7 linked regions of the Homo sapiens genome follow. The protein of the gene in region 1 interacts with the protein of each later gene in a biochemical or structural test. Each region holds a gene or a part of one and is shown in the gene's direction. Other genes may lie near its edges. The genes, in order: RLIM, SIN3A, POLI, ESR1, SMAD7, LMO4 and UBE2D1.

Evidence for each region.
Region 2: the proteins of RLIM (region 1) and SIN3A form a complex in vitro, tested with the Homo sapiens proteins (one study listed by BioGRID).
Region 3: the proteins of RLIM (region 1) and POLI form a complex in vitro, tested with the Homo sapiens proteins (one large-scale study listed by BioGRID).
Region 4: the proteins of RLIM (region 1) and ESR1 form a complex in vitro, tested with the Homo sapiens proteins (one study listed by BioGRID).
Region 5: of the proteins of RLIM (region 1) and SMAD7, one has a biochemical effect on the other in vitro, tested with the Homo sapiens proteins (one study listed by BioGRID).
Region 6: of the proteins of RLIM (region 1) and LMO4, one has a biochemical effect on the other in vitro, tested with the Homo sapiens proteins (one study listed by BioGRID).
Region 7: the proteins of RLIM (region 1) and UBE2D1 form a complex in vitro, tested with the Homo sapiens proteins (5 studies listed by BioGRID).

What each region holds. Positions count from the first base shown.
Region 1 is NC_000023.11:74,594,125-74,597,624, reverse strand, and holds part of RLIM (E3 ubiquitin-protein ligase RLIM), read left to right. Parts: intron 1-1,624; 5' UTR 1,625-1,647; coding exon 1,648-1,816; intron 1,817-3,235; coding exon 3,236-3,319; intron 3,320-3,500. UniProt on the Homo sapiens protein: E3 ubiquitin-protein ligase.
Region 2 is NC_000015.10:75,410,191-75,413,690, reverse strand, and holds part of SIN3A (paired amphipathic helix protein Sin3a), read left to right. Parts: intron 1-645; coding exon 646-928; intron 929-1,947; coding exon 1,948-2,199; intron 2,200-3,404; coding exon 3,405-3,500. UniProt on the Homo sapiens protein: Acts as a transcriptional repressor. Corepressor for REST. Interacts with MXI1 to repress MYC responsive genes and antagonize MYC oncogenic activities. Also interacts with MXD1-MAX heterodimers to repress transcription by tethering SIN3A to DNA.
Region 3 is NC_000018.10:54,276,017-54,279,516, forward strand, and holds part of POLI (DNA polymerase iota isoform a (long)), read left to right. Parts: intron 1-1,686; coding exon 1,687-1,839; intron 1,840-3,500. UniProt on the Homo sapiens protein: Error-prone DNA polymerase specifically involved in DNA repair. Plays an important role in translesion synthesis, where the normal high-fidelity DNA polymerases cannot proceed and DNA synthesis stalls. Favors Hoogsteen base-pairing in the active site.
Region 4 is NC_000006.12:151,814,182-151,817,681, forward strand, and holds part of ESR1 (estrogen receptor), read left to right. Parts: intron 1-3,500.
Region 5 is NC_000018.10:48,944,466-48,947,965, reverse strand, and holds part of SMAD7 (mothers against decapentaplegic homolog 7), read left to right. Parts: intron 1-3,500. UniProt on the Homo sapiens protein: Antagonist of signaling by TGF-beta (transforming growth factor) type 1 receptor superfamily members; has been shown to inhibit TGF-beta (Transforming growth factor) and activin signaling by associating with their receptors thus preventing SMAD2 access.
Region 6 is NC_000001.11:87,338,880-87,342,379, forward strand, and holds part of LMO4 (LIM domain transcription factor LMO4), read left to right. Parts: intron 1-656; coding exon 657-753; intron 754-1,167; coding exon 1,168-1,323; intron 1,324-3,500. UniProt on the Homo sapiens protein: Transcription cofactor. Plays a role in establishing motor neuron identity, in concert with MNX1, acting, at least in part, to disrupt LDB1-LHX3 complexes thereby negatively modulating interneuron genes in motor neurons.
Region 7 is NC_000010.11:58,362,506-58,366,005, forward strand, and holds part of UBE2D1 (ubiquitin-conjugating enzyme E2 D1), read left to right. Parts: intron 1-1,103; coding exon 1,104-1,181; intron 1,182-2,265; coding exon 2,266-2,371; intron 2,372-3,500.

The sequences.
Region 1 (3,500 bases):
TCCAACTAGGTCTTTTTCCATTCCATATATATTTTTACCATTCCAGTAGTAACATATCTTATTATGAGATTCTGCTTCAGGTTTTGCTGAATTAGTTTTCTCAACTTTGAAAATATTCTCACCTATGATTATTTCATGTAGACTACACATAGGGGCTACTTCTGCAGTTCAAACTCCTTGAATAATCAACACTTGGCTCTTTGAATAAACAATAACTTAAGTAGTATCAGTTACATTTGTCAACAAATCAAGAGCCAAAGAGAAAACCACTCCATCATTTACCTTATTTTTCAGTTGATTAGTGACATTGCTTTTCAATATTCCCAGCTTTTTGGACCACTATACTTACCAAAAGTCCAATATTATGTTTATTTTCTCTGGACACATTTCTTCAGCTTCTGCACTCAAACATAATTTCACTAACTCACCATCAATAAACAGCTTTCCTCGTTTAGCCAATAAATGAGCCCCTGGGAAATTTACTTTGATTGAAGCCTCATTTTTATTTTTGTGAAGAAATATTTTGTGATGAGATTTCACTTTAAATTTTCTAACTTTTTGAACTGTAGTTTTCCTGTGAATTGGGAATATTGTCACTAGTGTTTAATAGTGTCAGTATATATTGTATTTAGTATATAGTATTTTTTGCATAATCATGCATTCTTTGCCATCTAATCTGATTTTTGAAAAACCCATCCTCTGCTGCACCTTTAAGCGTGACATTCAGAGTCCACTTTTCTCTTTGTTTGAGATGATGAGTGTATACTCAGTTTTTTTTAATGTCCAGTGTGAAGGCACTTGAAATGCTGTCATTATAGCTACATCACTGCAACTTAAGAGTGCACAGAGCAGCAGTCCAAAGCAATGGGAGTGCCACATACAGTCTGTCACAACTGCTCAACTCTGCCATTATAGCACAGAAGCAGCCATAGATAACATGTAAATGAATGTGTATGGCTGCGTTCCAATAAAACTTTATGAACACTAAAATGTGAATTTCATTGCATTTTCATATGTCACAAGATAGTCTCTAAAAACCATTCTTAGGTTGCAAGGAGAATAAAAATATGCAGCACGAGGCTGGGTGCGGTGGCTCATGCCTGTAATCCCAGCACTTTGGGAGGCTGAGGAGGGCAGGTCACTTGAGCTCAGGAGGTTGAGACCAGATTGGGCCAACATGGTGAAACCCTGTCTCTACTAAAAATACAAAAATTAGCTGGGCGTGGTGGCAGGTGCCTGTCGTCCCAGCTACTTCGGGAGGCTGAGGCAGAGAATCACTTGAACCCAGGAGGTGGAGGTTGCAGTGAGCTGAGATCGCACCACTACACTCTAGCCTGGTTGAGAGAGCGAGACTCCATCTCAAAAAACAAAAAATACCACAGTATGGCTGGATTTGGCCCAAGGGCTTTAGTTCGCCAACCCTGTCTGGTTCAAGGGCTGTAGTTTGCCAACCCTTGACCTACTCTTAATATAACAGTGCTTTTCAGGAGTTTTTGTTAGGAAATTTCATTTGAGGTCTGAAAATCCATCTCTAGACCTACATTCTGGATTTTCACATAATTAAAACTTGTATAGAATACATAGTGACCTTTATTTTCAAGATTAGTCTCTTTTCTCTTTTCAGGTATTTTCCACTTGTTCATCAATATGGAAAACTCAGATTCCAATGACAAAGGAAGTGGTGATCAGTCTGCAGCACAGCGCAGAAGTCAGATGGACCGATTGGATCGAGAAGAAGCTTTCTATCAATTTGTAAATAACCTGAGTGAAGAAGATTATAGGCTTATGAGAGATAACAATTTGCTAGGCACCCCAGGTATGCTTACATATATTTAAGGATTTATAAGTGTAAGTTGCTGGTTTAAAAAAAAATGCTTGAACCTGTTTTAAAAATCCATTTCTTTAGCCCTTATGAAATATTATTTAACATAGGGGATATGGAATGACATTTATTGCTGTATTTATTACCTGATTATATTTACTGATGTTTGGAATTACACTATATCAGAGAGATTTTTAACTTATGAATTATGAATTTTTAGCGAACTGAATTGAAAAGAATGGAGCTAAATCTTTTTTTTCTTAGTTAGCTTTATCTAACTTACTAGATAAGAATCCGAGTGTGGAATAGCTAATGGGAACTTAGTTTTTAGGAAAGACTTATTCTGTTATCTCTGATTTTCTGAATATGTCCCAGTTGTAATCCTCCAGAGCTAGCCTTGGGTAACATAGCAATTAGAAGTTTGTGCTTAATTATCTTTTACCCCACTAAGTCCCATTTGATCCTAGTTAAAAGTCAGTATCTGTCTTCCTCTTCATTTCTGTTTAATTCTACTTACCTTTGAGTAATTGCTTAGATTTTAAAAGGTAAGGTTTTAGCATGACTTTTAAGAGAGGGAGTGTGTTTTTAGCCAACAATACCAGGCTTGAATCAGAATGCTTTAGGTGGAGTTCTGGCCCTGCTGTTTGGTGTGGCTCCTGGCAAGCCAGTCTGTCGCTCAGTCTGTTTCTTAATTTTAAAATGCAGATAACAATATCCTCCTCTCAAAGCTGCAATTCTTAAAAATTACTTACTTATTTATTTTTGAGACAGGGTCTCATGTTGCCCAGGCTGGACTCAAGGGATTCTTCCGCCTGAGTCTCCCAACGAGCTGGCACTACAGATGTGGTACCACTGTGCGCCCAGCTTAGAATTGCCTTTGCCTTTTTTTTTTTTTTTTTTTTTTTAAGCAGAGTCTTGCACTTTCGCCCAGGCTGGAGTGCAGTGGTGCAGTCTCTGCTCACTGCAACCTCTGCCTCCTGGGCTCAAGCGATTCTCCTGCCTCAGTCTCCTAAGCAGCTGGGATTACAGGCACCTGCCACCATGTCTGGCTAATTTTTGTATTTTTAGTAGAGATGGGGTTTCATCATGTTGGCCAGGCTGGTCTCGAACTCCTGACCTCCGGTGATCCACCCGCCTCGGCCTCCCAAAGTGCTGGGAGTACAGGCGTGAGCCAAAGTTAGATGTTATATGCAAAAGAACTTTGTAAATTGCTTTTAATATGTTTCCAAAGAAGTGAATTTTTCCCAGGACCTACCTACTCCTTGGTTTTTCTTTTTGGTTTGAAAAAGTTTTCTCTTTTAAAAATATGATTTTTTTTCTAATCATCTTGTGTCAGATTACTGTGAGTCACTGATAAAGTATTTGATTGTCATACCCCTAATGTCATCTTTGCCCTGTGGTGTTAAATTTCAGGTGAAAGTACTGAGGAAGAGTTGCTGAGACGACTACAGCAAATTAAAGAAGGCCCACCACCGCAAAACTCAGATGAAAATAGAGGTATGTTTTGGTTTTGGTGGGGAGGTGGATAGACGATGGGATGATAGGAACTTTGTAATAGTAAATGTCAGCCAAAGATTATCCAGATTTGGCACAAATTAATTTGGTGCTAAGTAACTGCTCATAAAAAGAAAACTGACATTTTCTTGATACTTAGAATGTCAGCATTTTTTTTCTACCT
Region 2 (3,500 bases), on another chromosome or scaffold:
GTGCCTGTAATCCCAGCTACTTGGGAGGCTGAGGCAGGAGAATTGCTTGAACCCAGGAGGCGGAGGCTGCAGTGTGCCGAGATTGTGCTACTGCACTCCAGCCTGGGCAACAGAATGAGACTCTGTCTCAAAAAAAAAAAAAACAAATTGTGGCCAAGTATCTTTGAGTCTAAAACTAAATGGCTTTGGAATTTCAGAGTTCGTGTGTTAATTTTAAAATGCGTAGATGATCTGTTTTCCTGTTTAGAGAAAACCTAGTAGAAAGTGAAATTTTGAGTGAGGTGGCTCATGCCTGTAATCCCAGCACTTTGGGAGGCCAAGGTGGGCGGATCACCTGAGGTCAGGAGTTCGAGACCAGCCTGGCCAACATGGTGAAACCCCACCTGTCCTAAAAATACAAAAATTAGCCGGGTATGGTGGCGCATGCCTGTAATCCCAGCTACTTGGGAGGCTGAGGCAGGAGAATCACTTGAACTCGGGAGGTGGAGGTTGCAGTGAGCCAAGACCCCAAGATTGCACCATTGCAGTCCAGCCTGGGCAACAGAGTGAGACTCCGTCTCAAAAGAAAAAAAAACATGAAATTTTTTCTTAACAGGGTGTTTGTTAAGCTTACAGTTTATCACTTTTCTTTTTGTTTTTTATCAGCATCGACACCCCAGGAGTGATTAGTCGTGTGTCCCAGCTATTCAAAGGCCACCCCGATCTGATAATGGGATTCAACACCTTCTTGCCCCCTGGCTACAAAATTGAGGTGCAAACCAATGACATGGTGAATGTGACAACTCCTGGCCAGGTTCATCAGATTCCCACCCATGGCATCCAGCCACAGCCTCAACCACCACCCCAACATCCTTCCCAGCCTTCAGCCCAGTCAGCCCCAGCTCCTGCCCAGCCAGCTCCTCAGCCCCCACCTGCCAAAGTCAGCAAGGTGAGCACTTGGAAAATATTGCATCAATATGAATGCATCCCTAGAGAGCACCTTCCTTTGATGTTTCCCCTTTATATAAGACTTAGATACTGAGAAACAAAGTTACAAAGATTTCGTCATAGAAAAATGCTGTATGAAAACTTCACTATGACATGGTTCACATTTACACATCACTTACTTAGGTATCTATTTAAATCAACACAGCAACAACTTTCAAGGTCTTTCTTTTTACAGTTTCTGCTTATAAAACCATGAACATCCCAACAGGTGGTGACTTTGTGTAGTAGTAGTTGACAGCACAGATAGAAACCATCGTCTTATCCTGGTCAAATTGTGCTGCTGCCCACATGGTTATTTTATGAAAGTTATTTCACTAACTAGATTATATCAAGCTAAGTAGAAGATCTAATGAATAGTGATAGTGATGGTGATGAAGATGGGGTGTTCTTGGTCTAGAACCACACTGTCTGACACAGTAGCCACTAGCCACATAGGACTATTTAAATTAAATTCAGTTTTTCATTTGCACTAGCTTTCAAGTGCTCAGTAACCTCATGTGGCTGGTGGCTATGTATAAGACAGTGCAAATAAAGGACATTTCCATCATCTCAGTTCTACAGGACAGAGTTGGCGTAGAAGACTTTTTTATGTGGAGCTACTGCAACAGTTGTCTTGTTGTTGACATCAAAAGGCTATGTAGAATGAGATTTTTTCTATGTGTACTTGTTGAGCTACTAAGCTAAAACATTGCATATGAAAAATTCTTCCCTGTAATTGGAGATGGCTCCAGTTTTAAGGTTTTATTTAGAAAATGTGAGACTGAAATATTTGTATCAGCATGTTTGAACCGCCTACAACTCCCACTGCTGCCCAGTATGATTTGTGTTGGACTAAAATGACCTGGCCTGAGTGAGTAAATAAAGGATATACGTTGACACCTTGTTTCTCTTTAGTTTGAACTTTCCTTGTATCAACTCATCTATGCATCTGAAGAGAATAAAGATTTCTTTTCTTTCTAGCCCTCCCAACTGCAAGCACATACTCCGGCCAGTCAGCAGACTCCCCCACTTCCACCGTATGCATCCCCACGTTCTCCGCCGGTCCAGCCTCACACACCAGTGACAATCTCGTTGGGAACGGCCCCATCCTTGCAGAACAATCAACCTGTGGAGTTTAATCATGCCATCAACTATGTTAATAAGATCAAGAACAGATTTCAGGGCCAACCAGACATCTACAAAGCATTCCTGGAGATTTTGCACACATATCAGGTAAGGAGTGCCCATTCAGCCTGTCTTAACCAGGTCACCCTCTTAGGGCATCTAGTCCAATAACAAGTAACCATTATTGTGTCCATTAATTCATACTGGAAATTAACCAGTTAGAAACTATCATGCATGTTTTTAAAGCCAGTTTGTTTGTTTGTTTGTTTTTCGAGACGGAGTCTTGCACTGTCACCCAGGCTGGAGTGTAGTGGCACGATCTCAGCTCACTGCAGTCTCCGCCTCCCGGGCTCAAGTGATACTCCTGCCTTAGCCTCCCTAGTAGCTGGGATTACAGGCTCCGCCCACCACGCCCAGCTAATTTTTTGTATTGTTAGTAGAAATGGGATTTCACTATGTTGGCTAGGCTGGTCTCGAACTCCTGACCTTGTGATCTGCCCACCTTGGCCTCCCAAAGTGCTGGGATTGCAGGCGTGAGCCACCGCCCCCATGCTATAAAGCCAGTTTTATTTGCCTGACTTGATTGCCCTGCAACATTCAGTCAGGATTTTTTTTTTTTTTTTTGAGACAGAGTTTTGCTCTTTTTGCCTAGGCTGGAGTGCAATAGTGCAGTGTCGGCTCACTGCAGCCTCTACCTCCCGGGTTCAAGTGATTTCTTGTATTTTTAGTAGAGACGGGGTTTCAACATGTTGGCCAGGCTGGTCTCAGGTGATCCACCCGCCATGGCCTCCCAAAGTGCTGGGATTGCAGGCATGAGCCACCGTGCCCGGCCTCAGTCAGGATTGTTAGTCACTGTCCCATGAAATGAAACTCAGTTTTATCTGGGACAGTTAGATGGTGATTTATATAGTCTAGTTAATGTACAGTAGGAGGAGGAGAAATTTCTAAGGTTTTGTCAGTTGGTAGTGGTCCCCTGGGCATTAATATTTATTGCCCTAGGCCGGGCATGGTGTCTCACGCCTGTAATCCCAGTACTTTGGGAGGCCGAGACAAGTGCACTCCAGCCTGAGCAACAAGAGTGAAACTCCGTCTCAAAAATATTTACTACCCTAGTTTTGAAAGGAATTGTCATCCACCATCTTCAACTTTTTTTTTTTCTCAACTTGAAAGTCTGTGGTCAGAACGGGTGCTAAGAACATAGACTTTCTTCTTACATGCAGCCTAAATAGATAACAGTGATTCCAGAAAGCGTGCAAAGATGAGTGACTCAAAACAGTAGCCCAAATGATCTCTTTTCATTTGCAATTCCTCAGAAAGAGCAGAGAAATGCCAAGGAAGCTGGAGGAAACTACACTCCAGCATTGACAGAGCAGGAGGTGTATGCCCAGGTTGCTCGTCTCTTTAAAAAC
Region 3 (3,500 bases), on another chromosome or scaffold:
GCCCTATATAATTATATGTTTAATAAATGTATCTTGCTTATGAAGTTGATACCAAGAAAGAGGTTAACTTCAGGAATGGAGGCTGGGCATGGTGGCTTATGCCTGTAATCCCAACACTTTGGGAGGCTGTGGTGGGGTATCATTTGAGGTCAGTCTGGGCAATATAACATAGCAAGACCCTGTCTCTACAAAAGTTAAAAAAAAAAAAAGTTAGCTGGTAGCATGTGCCTGCAGTCCCAGAGGCCGAGGTAGGAGGATTGCTTGGGCCCAGGAGGTCAAGGCTGTACTGAGCTGTGGTGTGCTACTCCACTCCAGCCTGGGCAACAGTGAGACCCTGTCTCATTAAAACTACAGCAACAACAAAAACCTTCAGGGACGGGATAATTAGGGATTTGTCCTGTGACCTAAAATCAGTCAATATTTAGTGATCCACCAGCTTCGTGCATGATTCTGTATTTAACTTGCTTTTCTATTTAGTGCTTAAAGCCTTATCCTTTATTTTTCTTATGTAGTATTCTTTTGATAAACTCTTGTTTTCTACATGTTACTTTGCATATCAGGTATATACTTTTGAAAATAAATTGCCGAAATTGATGAAGGAAATGCAAAACAATCATTTTCTTTGATTAGACATATTGTCAGTCTGTCCTGAAAGGAGGTAATAGTTTTCTCTAGGTAATAGTTTTCTCAGGAGTGATTTTTGGTGTTTGCCATGTCACATTGTTACCTTTATTGGTTTCCCCTCACATTGTCAATGTTGACATCAACAAAACAAAAAAGCACCTTTGGTGTTTGTGAAAAAACATGATCTATGTGGAATGAGATAGTCCTTTTATTTCTGAGCTTCAGATTATATGACCTTAAGAATCTATGCATTTTTGTATACTAAGAGACTTGCATTTGTTTTCTCTTATCCAGCTGGTGTCAGTAGAAAGTGATTCAGAGGGAAGTGAAAAACTTTCTCAATGATTTTAAAGTTATTAGTCTCAATGTTAATATATGAAAATTGATAGTTTTTTTGAATTTATTTTGAATTTTGGTTCAGCTTAATCTAGTAAACATTTGACTTGAGGACTAGATATTGTGCTAGACGCTGGGCATTTGAATACCTGTAAGTTGTGGTTCATCTCTGCCTCTCTGTCCTAAGGAATATTCTTGGGAATGGCTAATAAAAATACCACGTTATAGTATATTTTGAAAGTTGACTGACTTTCTGTTTTATTCAGTAATAATTGGACATTTTAAATATTATTTTGTTTTGCCTCTTTTAAACTCTTGGAGAAAATATAGCTAAAATATACTATTACTTGTTTTTAACTTTCCTGAGCAGCCTATAGTTTATTCTTTGACACATTTCTTCAAGGTCACCAATTTACTATAAGCATTGATATTTAATGTACTACAGATATAAAAATTATAGGTGTAGAAGATTGAGCTAGATATATTGCCATGAATAACTGCCCTAGGAATGTCATTTTTAGACTTTTTTGAAAATATTGCCTTTATACAAGATGTGGTACAGAAAAAACGTCAATTAACTGAGGGCTTTATTAAAGATATTATGGAACTATGAATGTATATAAAACCTTTAACAATAAATTTGATAAATTTTTAAGCACTAGATAGTTAAATTTATCCTAGTTATAACTTCATTTACATTTGTGCTCCAATATTATTTCAATTTAGAATTACTGGAAGAATTTAGTCCAGTTGTTGAGAGACTTGGATTTGATGAAAATTTTGTGGATCTAACAGAAATGGTTGAGAAGAGACTACAGCAGCTGCAAAGTGATGAACTTTCTGCGGTGACTGTGTCGGGTCATGTATACAATAATCAGTGTGAGTGGGTTCTTATTCATTCTACCTACTAACCAAAAGTACATACATTTCTTAATGTTCAGTGAGTTCGCTGTGTGATTCTGAAAGATTCATGACTTTTGTTGGAGGTATAGTTATATTTAGTCAGTAATCTGTCTAGGACAGCTAAAATTAGGTGCTGCTATTCCATAATAAGTGTTAAGATTTTGATGACATGTAGCTCAATGCTCTGTGCACTTTTCATTTGCACAGAGCATTGTTCCTGTTCATCTGCACAGAGCATTCATCTGTGCAGAGTTTTCGTCTGACACAGTGCATTGGTTCCCATTTTAGAAAGCCATACCCAGCTGGGCACAGTGGAGCGCCCCTGTAGTCCCAGCTGTTTGGGAGACTGAGCTGAGAAGATTGCTTGAACCCAGGAGTTTGAGTCCAGCCTAGGCAACAGAGCAAGATCCCATCTCTTAAGGAAACAAAAAGCCATACCTCTGTAGGTCATTCTTAAGTTGTAAGAGTTGGCTTCTTAATATGCTTTTTGGAATAATTTTTTATTATTCTAAAACAATCTCTAAGCAGAGTTTTCAGGTAGGCTAGATTTGCCTTTGATGTGTCTTTTACATGTTCCCTTCGATTCCCCTTTGATGTGTGTTTTACATGTTCACTTCGATTCCCCTGAGACCCTCATGTTGCTCTCTGAATTCCCAAGTTAGCACTTTTGGAATGTTGTCCAGGGCTATCTGCCATGTGCTAGAATCTTCTCCAAGCTCCTATTTAATCTGTTCAAATAATCTTTGTCAAAGTTAGCAAGAAAGCAGAATGGTTTGTCTCCTTCATATATTGAGATATGAATGACTGATGGTGTTTCCAGTGATATTTACATTTGAAAATAAGCTGCAGTAAGCACCAGTGAATATCTGATTAGGCTTTCAGACATCTTATGACTCTGCTGGTGACTCCCCTATCATACCACATACAAGACAAGGTACTCTGCTGTTGTGTAAGACTTGTCTGACCCTTTTGCTCTTAAGCCTCCCCATGCATTTCCTCTTATCCTCTTTTTTGAGAACTAGACATCGGTCTACAGAATAGTTCTCCACAGAAGAAAAGCAGTAGAACCACAGTTTCTAGAATACATGGAGCTTTTCCTGTATCTTTTGTACTTGTGCTCATTTGTAACTTAAAAGGGCTAACTAGCAAGAATATTTCAAATATATTTCTGTATAATTTTTAAGGCAAACTTGGATTTTATTGGTTAGAGTACATTATAGAGAGCTAGGTTTTATATCCCAAAAAGGGAAATGTGGAATTATTGATTAATTCTTCCTCTTTCATACAGATTTTATTAAAATTTTTTGTAAACCTACAGAAAAGTTGACAGAATAGTACAAAAAATACCCATTATGTCTTTTCTTTTTTTTTTTTTTTTTTTGAGACAGAGTCTCACTCTGTCGCCCAGGCCGGAGTGCAGTGATGTGATCTCGGCTCACTGCAACCTCCACCTCCTGGGTTCAAGCAATTCTCCTGCTTCAGCCTCCCGACTAGCTGGGACTACAGGCATGTGCCACTACACCCGGCTAATTTTTTTATTTTTAGTAGAGACGGGGTTTCACCATGTTGGCCAGGCTGGTCTTGAACTCCTAATCTCAGATGATCCGCTTGCCTTGGCCTCCCAAAGTGCTGGGATT
Region 4 (3,500 bases), on another chromosome or scaffold:
ATTTCTTTTATGGCCCTGAAAGCAAAAGACAATGTTCTCTTTTAGTTTCCTGCAATTAAATGATGTTAGAAATAGTCATCTTCACATTGGCGTACTTCCTCTTTCTTCTGTAGGTCTTTTAGAATTTTGAGTCCATTCTCATATTTTCTTGTTTCATTTGCTTTATTTTCTAATACATAGAAGTTTAAACTCCCTTTAAAGAGTTTTTGGCCTCTTTTACCCTATTAAGCTTTCTTTTTTCTTTTCTGTTTTAGTTGTTCCATCTGTGTATTCTCAGATATTTTTCTTTCACCTTTTCTGGTTTATTTCTTTATTGACCTGTCTCATCTGTTATTTTAATGAAATTTGGAACAGGGCTAAACAGAGTTCCTACCTCAGCCAGTATAAGAATATACCGTAATAACTCAGAGTGGTATTAACTAGATTAAAAGTTTCAAAAAGTGATGTTTTTCTTGTCTCTGAGGATAGAAACTTCAACAAAATAAAGAAGAAATTTTCAATTAGTAGAATTTCTTTGAAAGTTTGTTCATTCATTCATTTGGCTACCTTATTCCAAATTGAGTCATTCATTGAGGGCTTAGACTATATAAAGTGTGGTTTTGTTTTCCCAGCAGTTCATGCAACAGCATTGCACCTAGCAGCTGGGAAGTCTTATAGCATGAATAGGTGAGATTCTAATACCAGAATCTCCTGCATGTGTAAACTAACAGTGTAGTCTTGACTGTTGTCTCCCAGTAAACTTGGTTTCAGGAGTTTTAGATCCATGTGAACGTGTACAAGGCATTTTTGCTAACTGTAACTTCCCACTTAATCAACAAAAACAAAAACACTCATTTCTGAACATTCAGTGCATTCATGATTAATCTTAATTACACCACAAAGGTATTTTTCAATGGTGATTTTGCGGGAGTGGGGTAACAGTTTCGAAAGCAACATTGTCAGAAACATAGTTGATTTTAAAGGTTCTTTCTGGTGACTTTGACTTCTGCTTTTTTAGAAGACCTTACACAGAGTTGTATTTATTTCTCCTGGAATATTTCAAGCAATTCAGAGTGAAAGGGTATACATTCCAATTTGCGTATGAGATAAAATTTAGTTACATTGAGAAGCTATTTTCTTTAGTTACAGGGAAAAAATTGTAGGGCTTTTGGAAGCCTCTTTGATTTCTAATAGGAGGAATCCCTGAGCACTGGTCCAAACAGAAATCATCTCTTCTTCATTGCTGTATTTCCCTCAAGCTCTTAGCAAAGTGCATGGCACGTGAAAGCCCGGAGAAGCTGTTGGTTGAAAGAATGGATGGTGGTGGGCAGGAAGCATCAGGGACATGGTTTGCTTCAGTCTATTGGCTGGGAGAAAGGCCATTTAGGAAGGGATCCTTAGATGCCACTGGAAGAATGTGGGAAGTTTGTGAATCTCTCTTTCTCAGGAACAAAAGTAGAAAAAGGACTCCACACAGCATTCCAAGTACAGTCGGCCCTCATTATTCATGGATTCTGTATTTGCAAATTCGCTGACTTACTGACGTTTATTTGTAACCTTCGAGTCAACACTCACGGTGCTTTCTCAGTCCTTTGCAGACGTGTGGAATGGCAAAAAAATTTGAGTTATATGACGTATATGTTCCCAGCTGAGGCTGAGCAAGGCTCACTTCTCCTTGCAGCCCTCAGACTATAAACAAGTGTCCCTCTTGCTATCTACTTCGTGTTATGATTTTTGCATTTTCATAATCCCTGTTGATGATTTTGCTGTTTAAAATGGCCCCTAAGCATGGTCCTGAAGTACTGTCTAGGGATTCTAAGACAAGGCTCTGACGTGTCTTAAGAGAAAATACGTGTTTGATAAGCTTTATTCAGGCATGAGTTACAATGCTGTTGGCCATGAGTTCAATGATGGTGAATCAACAGGATATATTAAATACAGTGTTTTTGAACAGAAAAACATATAAAACAAGGTTATGTATTAATGAGTTGGCAAAAATGCTGTGACCAAAGGCTCCCAGGAACCTACCCTATTTTCCCCTCAATGCAATGGTTCAGTATTTGCTAATTCAGTGTTTGAGGTGACTTTATAGAACATGAGTACCATGAATAATGAGAATCGATTCTGTATAATAGAGTGATGAAAGCACAGGTCTGGGAGCCAGCAGCTATATTTCTATTCTGGCGTGACTCCTGTGTAGTTGTCATCACTGGCAAATTGCTTAACTGTGTGCCTCAGTTTCCTAATCTGTAAAAGCTACATCGTTTGGATGATGTGAGGATTAAACAAATTCATAGATGTCTAGGGCTTATAACATTCCTGGCACATAACAAGTCATTATTTTTTATTACTACTTCGGAAGGGAATTGAGTACTATACCCTGAAGAAGGTGAGTATGGGAATTCTCTACGGGTCTGGAATGTCCCTATATTTGTTTATTTTGCCTTCAAGTGACTAACTTTAATACCCTATTGTGATTAGAAGTTAAACTTCTGCAACCAAAAGGAAGCAGGAAGCTAGTATTTCTTGAAGTGCTTATTACATGCCAGGTACTGTGCTACAAAAACAAAACAAAACAACTGTAAAAAAAACTTCAAATTTGGCTGCGTGCAGCTGCTCATGCCTGTCATCCCAGCACTTTGAGGAACTGAAGGGAGGATTGCTTGAGTCCAGGAGTTCCAGACCAGCCTGGGCAACACAGTGAGACCCTGTCTCTACAAAAAAACAAAAACAAAAACAAAGGCACTCCAAATCAGTAAAAATTAATCAATCAATAAAAAGAGTGAGGGGCATTAAGTATTGTGGACTGAAGCAATCCCAGAGAGGGAATTAATTGAAGCTGAGGTAAGCAGCTTATGGAGAAGCTATGATGTACAGAGGGCAAGGAAGGAATTTTTCTGTAATTTGGAAAAATGGGAACTGTGAGAAAGAAGGAGTTGGAAGCTCATACTTAGGGAGCATCTACAAGGACGTCTTTTTCACGTTGGTTGGAATATCCAAATCAAGGATTATTTCAGAATCACCCAGATGATTAAAAAACTACTGAGATCCAGGTTGTATTTCAGCAGTTCTGACAATTGCTCTGGGTCGAAGCTTGAATCAGTAGTTAAGAAAAACAACAAACAAAACAAATTTTGGGGCTTTTCTCACTGATTTACAGTTAAAGCTCATTTACTCTTCCTATGACTTTAGATGGAGGATATTTCCAAGTCTTCAGGATGGAGACATGGAGGGAAGTGAGACTAGTGATGTGCCTCAAGGTTTTGCTGTTGTTCTAACCATGAGGAGCACTATTCAAACCCAGGTCTGCTAGATTTCCAAGTCTTCATTTCCTTGGGCCTCTTGGATTTCAGAAGCAGAGGGTAAAAGGAGTGCTGGGGAGAAAGATCACAGTAGCTTTCAATTCTACTCCTCAGCTTTCCAAAATAAGTTTCAAGACTGGCCGTTGCATTTGATATGGAATAAATACAAAGAAGGTAGATTGAAGGGTATGAAGATGCAGATTTTTGATACCAGATATG
Region 5 (3,500 bases), on another chromosome or scaffold:
AAGACTTTGGTCTGGAGTAGACACTAGAACTTTTCAGAAGTATAGGCAACAGCCAGTAAAAGGGGGGGGGGGGTAGGTTCCTCCTGCTCCAGTCACCTGCAAGTCAGTCCTCTCCCGGGGTTTTCTCAGTATTCGCCATAGGGACTATCAAAGTTTGAAGCATAGCTCTGCCTGTCTGCTGCTTTGTCACTGGCTGGCATGAAGCCATGGCAGAAGCCCATTTGAGACTGGCACCAGCCCTGTTGTGGTTGTCTGCATTCAACTTCTGGCCGGCAGCAGCACAGGGGTCCATCCTCTGGACATCACAGTGCTGGGGACAGGGTCAGCAAAATGAACTTGGGGGTGACAACAAGGACAAACCCAAATTCCTGGAGCTCCCTCTTACAGTAGGAGATAGATCTGTTTGCTAAAAGTACAGGTTGTATGTAACCTTGGTTTTTGTGCCTGTATACTGGTGCCTGAAAAAAACATTAATACTTGGGACATTTTTATTTTGCCAAGGTTCTGGGAGAAGGAAAAGTGAAGGGTTGGGCACCATTTAGCTCCTGGAATTCTGCAAGTCCTTCCGCCTCCTGCGTTTTGGCTGTTGGGCCTTTCCCCCCACTAATTAAAAGTTTTGCTGGGGCGTTGTCATAAATTAAATACTTTAATGAACGTGTAACCGAAGCCCATACTCTGCAGCCAGTCCTCCTGGGACTCTACCAGCTCCCTCAAGTTGGGAAGGCGTTCCTGCTTGCCTGGTGCCGGTCTAATAAGTGGCCCGCAAAGCATGTGATATTTTGCTTTCGATTTACAAAACACCAGATAAATGGTTATTAATAAGGAGATACCCAGCTCTCTGTATTTGTAACAAACGTTAACTGGAATTACCAAGCTCTGTTTTCCTAAAGACTGTAACTTGACTGGGTTTTGGCTTAAAGAATCAAGAATTCTTTTATGAAGTTCATTTTCCAAGGGGCCACCTCTGACCTGTTTTTTTTGTCCTTCCATATTCTTCAAATTTGGAGGTTTTCCTTAAAAGAGAGAGAACAGTGACCTTAGCCCCAGGGATAAAGACCAGCAGGGGTAAATGTTCCCAGAAACCTCCAAAAACCATAGAAAAGAAAGGCCATGTTCCCTTGGGTTTCCTGCAGAGACACTGGGATAAATCTGTTCTCAGGATTTAAGCAGTCATTCTGCCAGGCCAGGGCCTCATTTTCGGTGAGTGGAGTGATATATTTATTCATTAGCAAGTGTTGACATTAGGTAGCAAAATGTGTGTAAACAGAGAAGCCACAAAGACAGGAATGTGCCATTTCCAAGGGGGAGAAAAGTTCTCCAGATCAGCCAATAGGAAGTGATTAACCTGCCAATCGGAAACTAAGACAGCTGGTTACTCACCCAAAACGTTTTGTTGAAAATAGAACAAAAAAAGAAATGAGAAAAGGCGCTGCTGTGTAAGAATTTAGCATCAGTAATAGACAAAGCCCCCACGAAGGGAATTGTCCTGCCACATTGGAGGACAGCCAGGTCTGGAGCTGGAGCACACCCCCCCCGCCCCCCTCACAGGTCTGGGGCTGGTTTTGCCAGCTGCTGTGGCCGGGGGCATTGAGGTCAGACCACAGATGGGCGCTGACCCAGGTCTTCATCCCCATTTTGCGTATGGGAGAATGTTTGGCCCGGGAATCTACATGGACCATTTACATTCTTCAGTTTCTATGTCCCTTAGGTTGAATTTTTGGTCTTGGGTTACTAGATGAAACAGGCACAAAGTTTTACAGTGGACAACTGTTAAAATCTTAACCAGTTGCACAACTAAAGGAATACATCCTGTGAAGTCTCCATCTTAGGAAAAGGTGGTGGGAATGGGGCTGGGGCCTGGTACCCTGCAGCCTTTGGAGACACAGAGGGCTCAAAGCTAGGAACTCCATTTTGCTATAATTTAAGCCACTCCACTCAGCATCTGGGAGGCCTGGACTTTAGACACCTAGGTACTGTGTGGTCCAACCAGGAGAGCCTTCTTTGAAAGAGTGTTCACATGACTGAACCTAGGGGAGGCCAGTTGTGACTTGTGGCTGTCAGAAGTCAGAAAGACACCCCCACCTCCACATCCCACAAGAAGTCAGAATTTGCTGTTTAAAGCTGGATCTCGGGGATAGCTGTGTGGGCTCTGCTTCCCGTGTTTCATTGTATCTGATGGTCTGAAAGGTTTGAGGAATGGCTGGCCTTGGGGGGTTGCTGGGTGAGCTCTTGAGGGACCCAGGTGGCCAGTATCCATGGGCAGATCCAGCCTGCAAATCCAGATCGGAAGTCTGGTGTCTTGACCTGAGATCTGGCACTGCGTTTCTCTCTTAACCGAGGTCCCTCTTAACTTTTCTAGGCCTCTTTTAAAATCAGCATGATGAAAGAGATTAGGTCATTCATTCATTTATTCATTCATTGGTTCAGTCATTCATTTTACAGGCATGATGATGTGCCTACCTAGAAATTTGAGGATTCCGATGCAGTGCTGTGTTCTTTTTTTTTCCGAGACAGTCTCATTCTGTGCCCAGGCTGGAGTGCAGTGGCCCGATCTCGGCTCACTGCAAGCTCCACCTCCTGGGTTCACACCATTGTCCTGCCTCAGCCTCCCGAGCAGCTGGGACTACAGGTGCCCGTCACCATGCCCAGCTAATTTTTTGTATTTTTAGTAGAGACGGGGTTTCACCGAGTTAGCCAGGATGGTCTCGATCTCCTGACCTCGTGTGATCTGCCCACCTCTGCTTCCCAAAGTGCTGGGATTACAGGCGTGAGCCACTGCACCTGGCAGTGCTGTGTTCTTTTATAACCAGGGTTCATTTGAGTTCTGGGTTGGTTGAACTACCTGGGGCAGAGCTGGGACCCTTGGGGTACAGTGGTGAGTAGGGGCTCCTCTGTCTTTAACAGTACTTAGGAAGCTCAGAACGCAGTTGCTGAGACTATCGTGGGACTCCCAGCTCCTTTACCTTGTACTCATTCTCAATAGTTCGCTCCTTGGCTGCTCCCCAGGGTTGGGTTTTCAAAGACTCTGTTGGAGCTGCTCGGAGAAAGGAATGAGTCTTTTTCTCTCGCAGAACCTAGTGCTTACCAAGTGCTTGATAACACTTAGTGTTGCGTGAGTCAGGAGTGGCCTAGAGCTTCTGTCTGCCAGCCAGCCTGGGCTCTGGGGAACAGGCGACACAGGCCTAAGGTGAGACCCTGACTTCAGAGATCTGTCTATGCGGAGCTTTTCTGTGGGTGAGAGATGGAGGTATGGCTCCTTTAACCTTGAGGCCAGTCTGGATGGCCTGGCCACCTCCAGGAAAGAGGGTAGGGACTCCATAGCCTGCCTGGGGAGTGAGAGCCATGGGATAGGGCTGGACTCTTGGGAATAGCCCAGCTCACTGGGTGGCCCTTTGAGCTAGTCAGTGACGCCTCAGTTTACCTGGCTGCCTATGGAACAGGTATACTTTGCTTCTTCACAGGGGTGGTAGGGAGGCTTAATTAACGTTTGTAAATCCCTC
Region 6 (3,500 bases), on another chromosome or scaffold:
GCAGATAGAGGGAAGTTGGAGCAAGCATTTCATTATCAAGAGAGAGAGAAGGTTAGGATGAAAGAGATGAGCAGAGGCAAATCTTAAGTGTTGACACCATGATTGAAAAGGTTAACCCATACACATTATATATCAACCTGGATAGCAGAGAGTTTCTAATGGAAAGTCTGCACTGATGGAGGTTTACGGGAGTTTCAATACACTGAGCATGATGTCTTCTTAGATATACAATCAAATCCTCTTAACCCTTTTGATGACTCATATCTGAAGATATGATTAAAGTACAAAAGAGTTCTTCATATAATTTCAAGGACACAATGCATTTAAACTCCAGTCATGAATTGTATCTTTTTTTTTTTTATGATGAACCTAGTAATCTGATAAAATGTGTGTAGAACAGAATTGTATTTGCTAGAGGTGTAAGTCAATATTTTGATTAAATCTGGGGCATCCTCTGCGGTAGGCAGAAGTTTGTTGTCCCACAAAAAGGATTTTTCCCAGATTATGTAAATCACTCAGAAAATCTGAGGCTTGAGCCTAAGAATTCAGCCTGTCAAATGCATTCCAAAGGGATGCCCAGAGTCTGGGGGTGTTTTTCTTTCTTTTTCTTTGGTTTAGGATTATTCACTGGTGTCAACCGTTATTCTTTGTTTCAGGTTATTTGGAAATAGCGGTGCTTGCAGCGCTTGCGGACAGTCGATTCCTGCGAGTGAACTCGTCATGAGGGCGCAAGGCAATGTGTATCATCTTAAGGTAGTATTTGCATCTCTCTTTTTTTTTTAAAAAAAAAATCATACCTTTCCTACCTACATGGGGGCAAAGCATTTCTCCTTGGTATGAACTGTTTTCTCAAGCTGCAGACACTTGAAGGAATGATTGAAATTGTAGCATGGCAGTGATGGTTACACATCCACATGCACAGACCACGCTTCCCCTATGCCACAGACAGAAGTACACATGTATTTGGATTTGTCCCCATTTAGCCTGGTCCAGTTGATAGCAATTTGGCTTACTGTTTTCTGGAGATCTGTCAAAGGAAGAAAAAACGCTAAACCCTAAGTGTCTCTGTACTTGACAGATACCTGCTTAATAACAGGTTATAAACTTGTGACCAAAAAAAGACTTAATTTTTACCTTGTTTTCAGTGGGTTTGTTTTTCCCTTTCAGTGTTTTACATGCTCTACCTGCCGGAATCGCCTGGTCCCGGGAGATCGGTTTCACTACATCAATGGCAGTTTATTTTGTGAACATGATAGACCTACAGCTCTCATCAATGGCCATTTGAATTCACTTCAGAGCAATCCACTACTGCCAGACCAGAAGGTGAATACCCAGCAATTACTAATAAGCTTTATTAGAGCAAGTTGGAAGGTTCAACCTCTTAACCTAGCAAGAGAGTTTTCTTGGGTGGTTGTATTTTTGCATGCCCTTTTAAAGAAATGTAGATTACTAGTTGTACATAGAGTGTTCAGAAGTAGGATAGCTGATTAAATTGTGAATCCTTTCTAGTTAAAAAAAAAATCCTGACTTTGTTATATCTGTAGCTTCACTCACGTTGAACATAAGATTATCACATGCAAAAGCAAACAAAATGTAAAGCTTCCATATAACTGGTTATTTATTCCATTTGACAATTTTGAAATTCAGAAACATGATGTGATAGGTTATTGTGGAAGAAAAATTAGAACATTTATGGTAGGAAAAGAGAATAAAGATCTTTGTTATGAAAGAATGATTTCTGCGTTAGGAATAGCAATCTGGACACCTGCCTTCCAAACCCAATTTACAATTCATTTACTTTTTAGAAGAGTAATTTTACAAAACATTCTGTAACTTCATAAGAGGGCATTTTTGTTCATTGGCGGTACCATAACATTTGAATAAGTTATGGCTTTTAAAACCAAGTTCTTGTTCTTGCTAACCCGCTTAGTGCCATTAATAGTGCCATTAGAAATTATGTATCTTGATTCTTGATCCACAACTTGAAAATCCTTGTACCAGAATTAAAAATTAGGAAATTATACAAGTATACAAATCATGTAGTATTAGAAGATATTCCAGAGGGAAAATTGGTGATCAACAGTTGTCCAGCACCCCCAGTACTGGATAGTTTTAGATCTATTTTAATCTCCTTAATAAGTCCTATAGCTATGCAAGTGAGTGCATTTTGATAACTGCTGTGCCTAATTTGTAACAATTACTGTCAACCTTCAGTTAAGAGACTGTTCATTCCACACCGGCCCAGAAAAGAGTGAAATGTATGACTCGTGTGCATAATTTTATTCACATCATATTTCATACTGATTATGTATTGATGACATTGATTCATTTACTCTTTACAGCGCCACTTGCATGGATATTAAATCTTATTGACCACAGATGAATTTTAATTTCAGATTGGTGATAGATTTTTCCATCAGCTCTGATAGTATGTTTGACTTTTTCATCATTAACCCAGGCAATCACACAGCACTGAGTTATTGCATTGAAACAAAAAGTGCACACTTCACTTGGTAATTCTTTATGGATTTACAATAGGAACTTCATTAATGTCTGTTGTAAGGATCACAAAAAAAACAACATTTATCTGCAAATAGGAATTTAGCAAGCTTCAAAAATCTCGGGGAAAAAAATAGACTTTTTTGTCTTCTGTAATGCATTTTCTTAGTGCGGTGGTGGAGGTGGGGGTTTGACAAATATTTGAAAACTTTTAACCATTAAAATTATGCTGCCATATTTTGATGCTTATATTTGCCCTTTTCCCTTGCTCAAGTTTATGAGGTAATTTTAAATGTATGTTCTGTTTCTTAGTGTTAATTACATGACATTATGTGCACTTTAATTTACTAATATGGGGAGCTACATAGAATAACCATTTTAAGAATAAAAGTTGAACTTTTTAATTGCAAACTAACCAGTCACTGCTGATGAGGTATTTCAAGCTTCTTCAAGGAGTGCCAAGACATATAAATGCTTAAAGATTTTTGTGATTTGGATTCTAATGAAGTGAATCTGCAGGGCAGAGTTGAGAACAATGAATGAGCAACATAAATATTTGGAGATACCTATTCAGAATAGAGGTAAAGCTGTTTGTAGTTACACTTGGTAGCAAAAAAGAAAAAATATGCTAGAAATAAAATGGTAGACCTTCTCTCCACTCCTTCTGATGTAAAAGCTTAATTTTTCCCCGAGTTAGAGCTTCACTTTGTTGCTGGTTTTATACCATTTCTTTCTCTGACTTAGCAAAGTACTATACAAAAAAATGATTGTTGCAGTTCACCAGCATGCATGGTGAGAATGAAAGGATGTAGAGATGAGATGGAAAATGTTGCTAGATTGTGAAGCACTGAATACAGGCAATAGCAGTGTTAGGTAGGGACCAAGTATAAAGCACACCTAAGAAATATGAGCAGGATTTCATACCATCTTTTATAGTATAAGATGGCATAAATTTAGAGGTGTTAGGGAGGAGAACTGCAGAAAAACCAGGTTTACCTGTT
Region 7 (3,500 bases), on another chromosome or scaffold:
GAACCTTCAAAATACTCTCATTTAAAGGCCCACCCTTACCTTTTGAATTATGGCCTTTCACAAATATTTTTTAGGTGAATCACATGTAACAAATGGTTATAATCATGTTATTCATAACTCCCTTACTTTAGTAATGTAAATATTTACAGTACTCTGGACCATATCTGTCATTGTAATTTATCTTCATTTTCTATATTTCTTACAATTTTTGATAAACTAGAATTGTTTAAACAATATATATAGTAAGAATTATTATACAGGAAAATCCTCTAGCATATATGTGGAAACTTAACGAGAAAGTAATGAGTCTTGGTGTTATTACCAGAATGCTAATATAACATGATATATTTAATTAAATATGAAAGAATTAAAATAGAATTGTAGGTATAGTTTGCTAGCATTTTCTTTTTTTAAAATTTTTTTGCTTGTAATGTTATATTTTCTAATGGCTATAAAGAAACATGGTCAAATTTAAATTTCTCTAGTAAAGTTGATTCCCAATTTGATAGTAGCATGAATATATAATTTTGTTTTGGATTTTTTTGGGTTCTCTACATTATTTTATAAATAATTACTAAACGAAGATTTGGCACATAAATTGTGTAGCAGGGTCCTTAGCATTTTCTTTTCACGACAGCCTCTTCAGTTCATCTCCATTCTTGGTCATCAAGTGAACATCAGAACTTAAGTTTTACTATCCTCAACCCTTTTTCAAAAAAAATACTGATTACGGCTGCAGAAAATGATCTTTTCCCACAGCAGTCGTGTGTATACTGATCTTTAACAATTTGTACTCATAACCAGATTTGTTTGGACAAGTCACAGCACTGTGTGTGTCCTGTTTTTGTTTTGTTTTAAATTTTATGATGTCGGCATAGTTGTTGGAAAATCCTCCTTCGTACCTGCAGAGAAACCTGTTCTCAAAGTAAATGATTTGAACTTATGACAAAATGGTTGCATTTTTTTCATATTGGTAATATTTAATGAAATTATTTTAAACATGATGGCATTTTTTTCAAACTGATAATATTTGGGGGAAATAATTTTGTTGTTATAAATAAATATAGTAATCAAATGCTGATGCAAATCTTTTGTAATTTCAGCCTGATAGCGCATATCAAGGTGGAGTCTTCTTTCTCACTGTACATTTTCCGACAGATTATCCTTTTAAACCACCAAAGGTATTTTTATTTTTATGATTGATGTGACTCCCATGTAAGAGATTTTATTCTTTATCTAGAGCTCATTTGATTATCTAGAGCTCATTTGATATGTCAAAGACTGTGGGGAGGTTAGCATTTTCAAACTGTTTTGTAAAAACTACTGAATCTAAAATCTGATTTCTTATTGAAATACTGTATTAAGTCTATAAAACAAAAGTCAGTACGTGTCATGCTATAAATTAAATTCCTTGCTTTTCTTTTCCTTCTTATTGGATATGTGTAGTTTGGGACGTTTTTATGATTAAGAGTCAGACTTTTCTATTCATGGGATTATCCTTACAAAGTTGATCATTCTTTCTCTGTTTTTTTTTTTTAAGTATTCAATAAACATTCACCGAGTACCTACTGTGTTCTTCTACACTGGGGAATCCGAAAGTAAATATGAAGCAGTCCCTTAATTTAGTATGGTAGGAGAGAGAAACACATGTTAGATTTAGATTTGCTCTAAAGAGGAAACAAATGATGGGGATATCAGGGAGGGGAAAAGTGGGCAGATTTTGTCACTCAGGATATAATTATTTTAAATAGTTAAAAACAGATTAACATTGTATTTATGAAATGGTATGACAACTCTTGTGGAAAATTAGGATTCTTAATGGATTTCTTAGCTGAGACGCCTCAACTTTGCCCTGAAACAGCGTCAGCACCCTGGTTTTAGATCCAAATGTTACTTCCAGGTATCACCAATAATCAAATTAAGAAAAGGATTACTTCTACATATGATGGAAGCCATGGTTAATTACTTTAGATGCTGCTCAACCAGTCATACCGGCTACTAGAGACTTATTTATTACACTGTCCAAAATACTCTTCAGTTCCTTTGAGGGCAAAAGAAGGAAGCTGACTTGTTTGTGTTCACATTCTCACTAGCTAGAACTGTGTGTAGCACAAAGTAGATAATTATTTGATTTGTGTTGATGACTTTTCTCCTCTAAAGTTATGTAAAGTTGAGGATATTTTACCCTAGAGCAAATTGGTTCTGTTTTATTCATAGTTGATTCAAAGGTGATTGTCATATTTTGTTGTTTTGTTTTATGTTTAGATTGCTTTCACAACAAAAATTTACCATCCAAACATAAACAGTAATGGAAGTATTTGTCTCGATATTCTGAGGTCACAATGGTCACCAGCTCTGACTGTATCAAAAGGTAATTTCATTGATCAGGTTTGAAACAGTTGATAACAGTGAGACAGGAAAAATACAGCAGAATTACCTATGGACTAAAGTTTTAAAACAACAATCAACTGTGCTTTCTCCTGTTTTGATTTTGTTTTGCTCTCTTTGCTCTTATGTTACTATGGCTTTTGGCAGTTAGCTTTGGTTGAGGGGAGTGTGGATGGACAAATCTAAATGATGAAATGAGAAAAAACCTTAAAATATCAGAGCTAGAAATTTGGGGATAAACCTATTGATATTTTATCCTTTTAGCTTGGGTGTTGTCTTTTAAAAAAGAGAGAGTGCCCGGGCACTGTGGCTCATGCCTGTTATTCTAACACTTTGGAAGGCTGAAGTGGAGGATTGCTTGAGCCCGAGTTCGAGACCGGCCTGGGCAACATAGGAGACCCCATCTCTGCAAAAGAAGAGAGAGAATAAGAGATAGTAAAAGGAAGATTTTGGGACTGGTTGTCCCATTCATTAAATGGAAATGTTGACAATAATAAAGCTTTACAGCTGTTTTACTTCATCCAAGAATAAAATACCAGATTTGATTGATAAATGATTTAAGATGAAAGACATTTCACACTGTAGGATAATGCAGTACATATAGCATGTTAGTCTAAACTTCGAATAATCAGTAGCATCATTATAGTGACTGACACAAGATCTGTGCTGATTCTCAACTTTTACAGGGGTATAGCTGTTCTTTGCTGGATTATCAGGTGTATACATAGGCATCTCAAGCCATTTTATTTCATTAGCCACTGCTACTTACTGTGCTAGCACTCTTAATTTATGTCTTGTTTCTCTGAAAGAAGAGAACCTGACAGTTGGAAAATACTGTTTAGGTTAGAAGTAGCTGCACTGAAGCAACCATCAAGTTTTCCGTTTTTATAAAATTGAAGAAAATGTTTCTCTTGAAGGGATTTATGGAAGCAATCTGTACTCATTTTTTATTTTTAATAATTGCTACTTGAATATACAGCATGTTTTTAAAAGTAATAAGGTTTATAGGAAGCAGGGTCCACAGCCGTAGCTCTTTCAAATATTAGATAAATAATAGCTCTTTCAGTTCAATTATTTATGAACGATAGTTTTTCTGACCTAAGATGCTCATC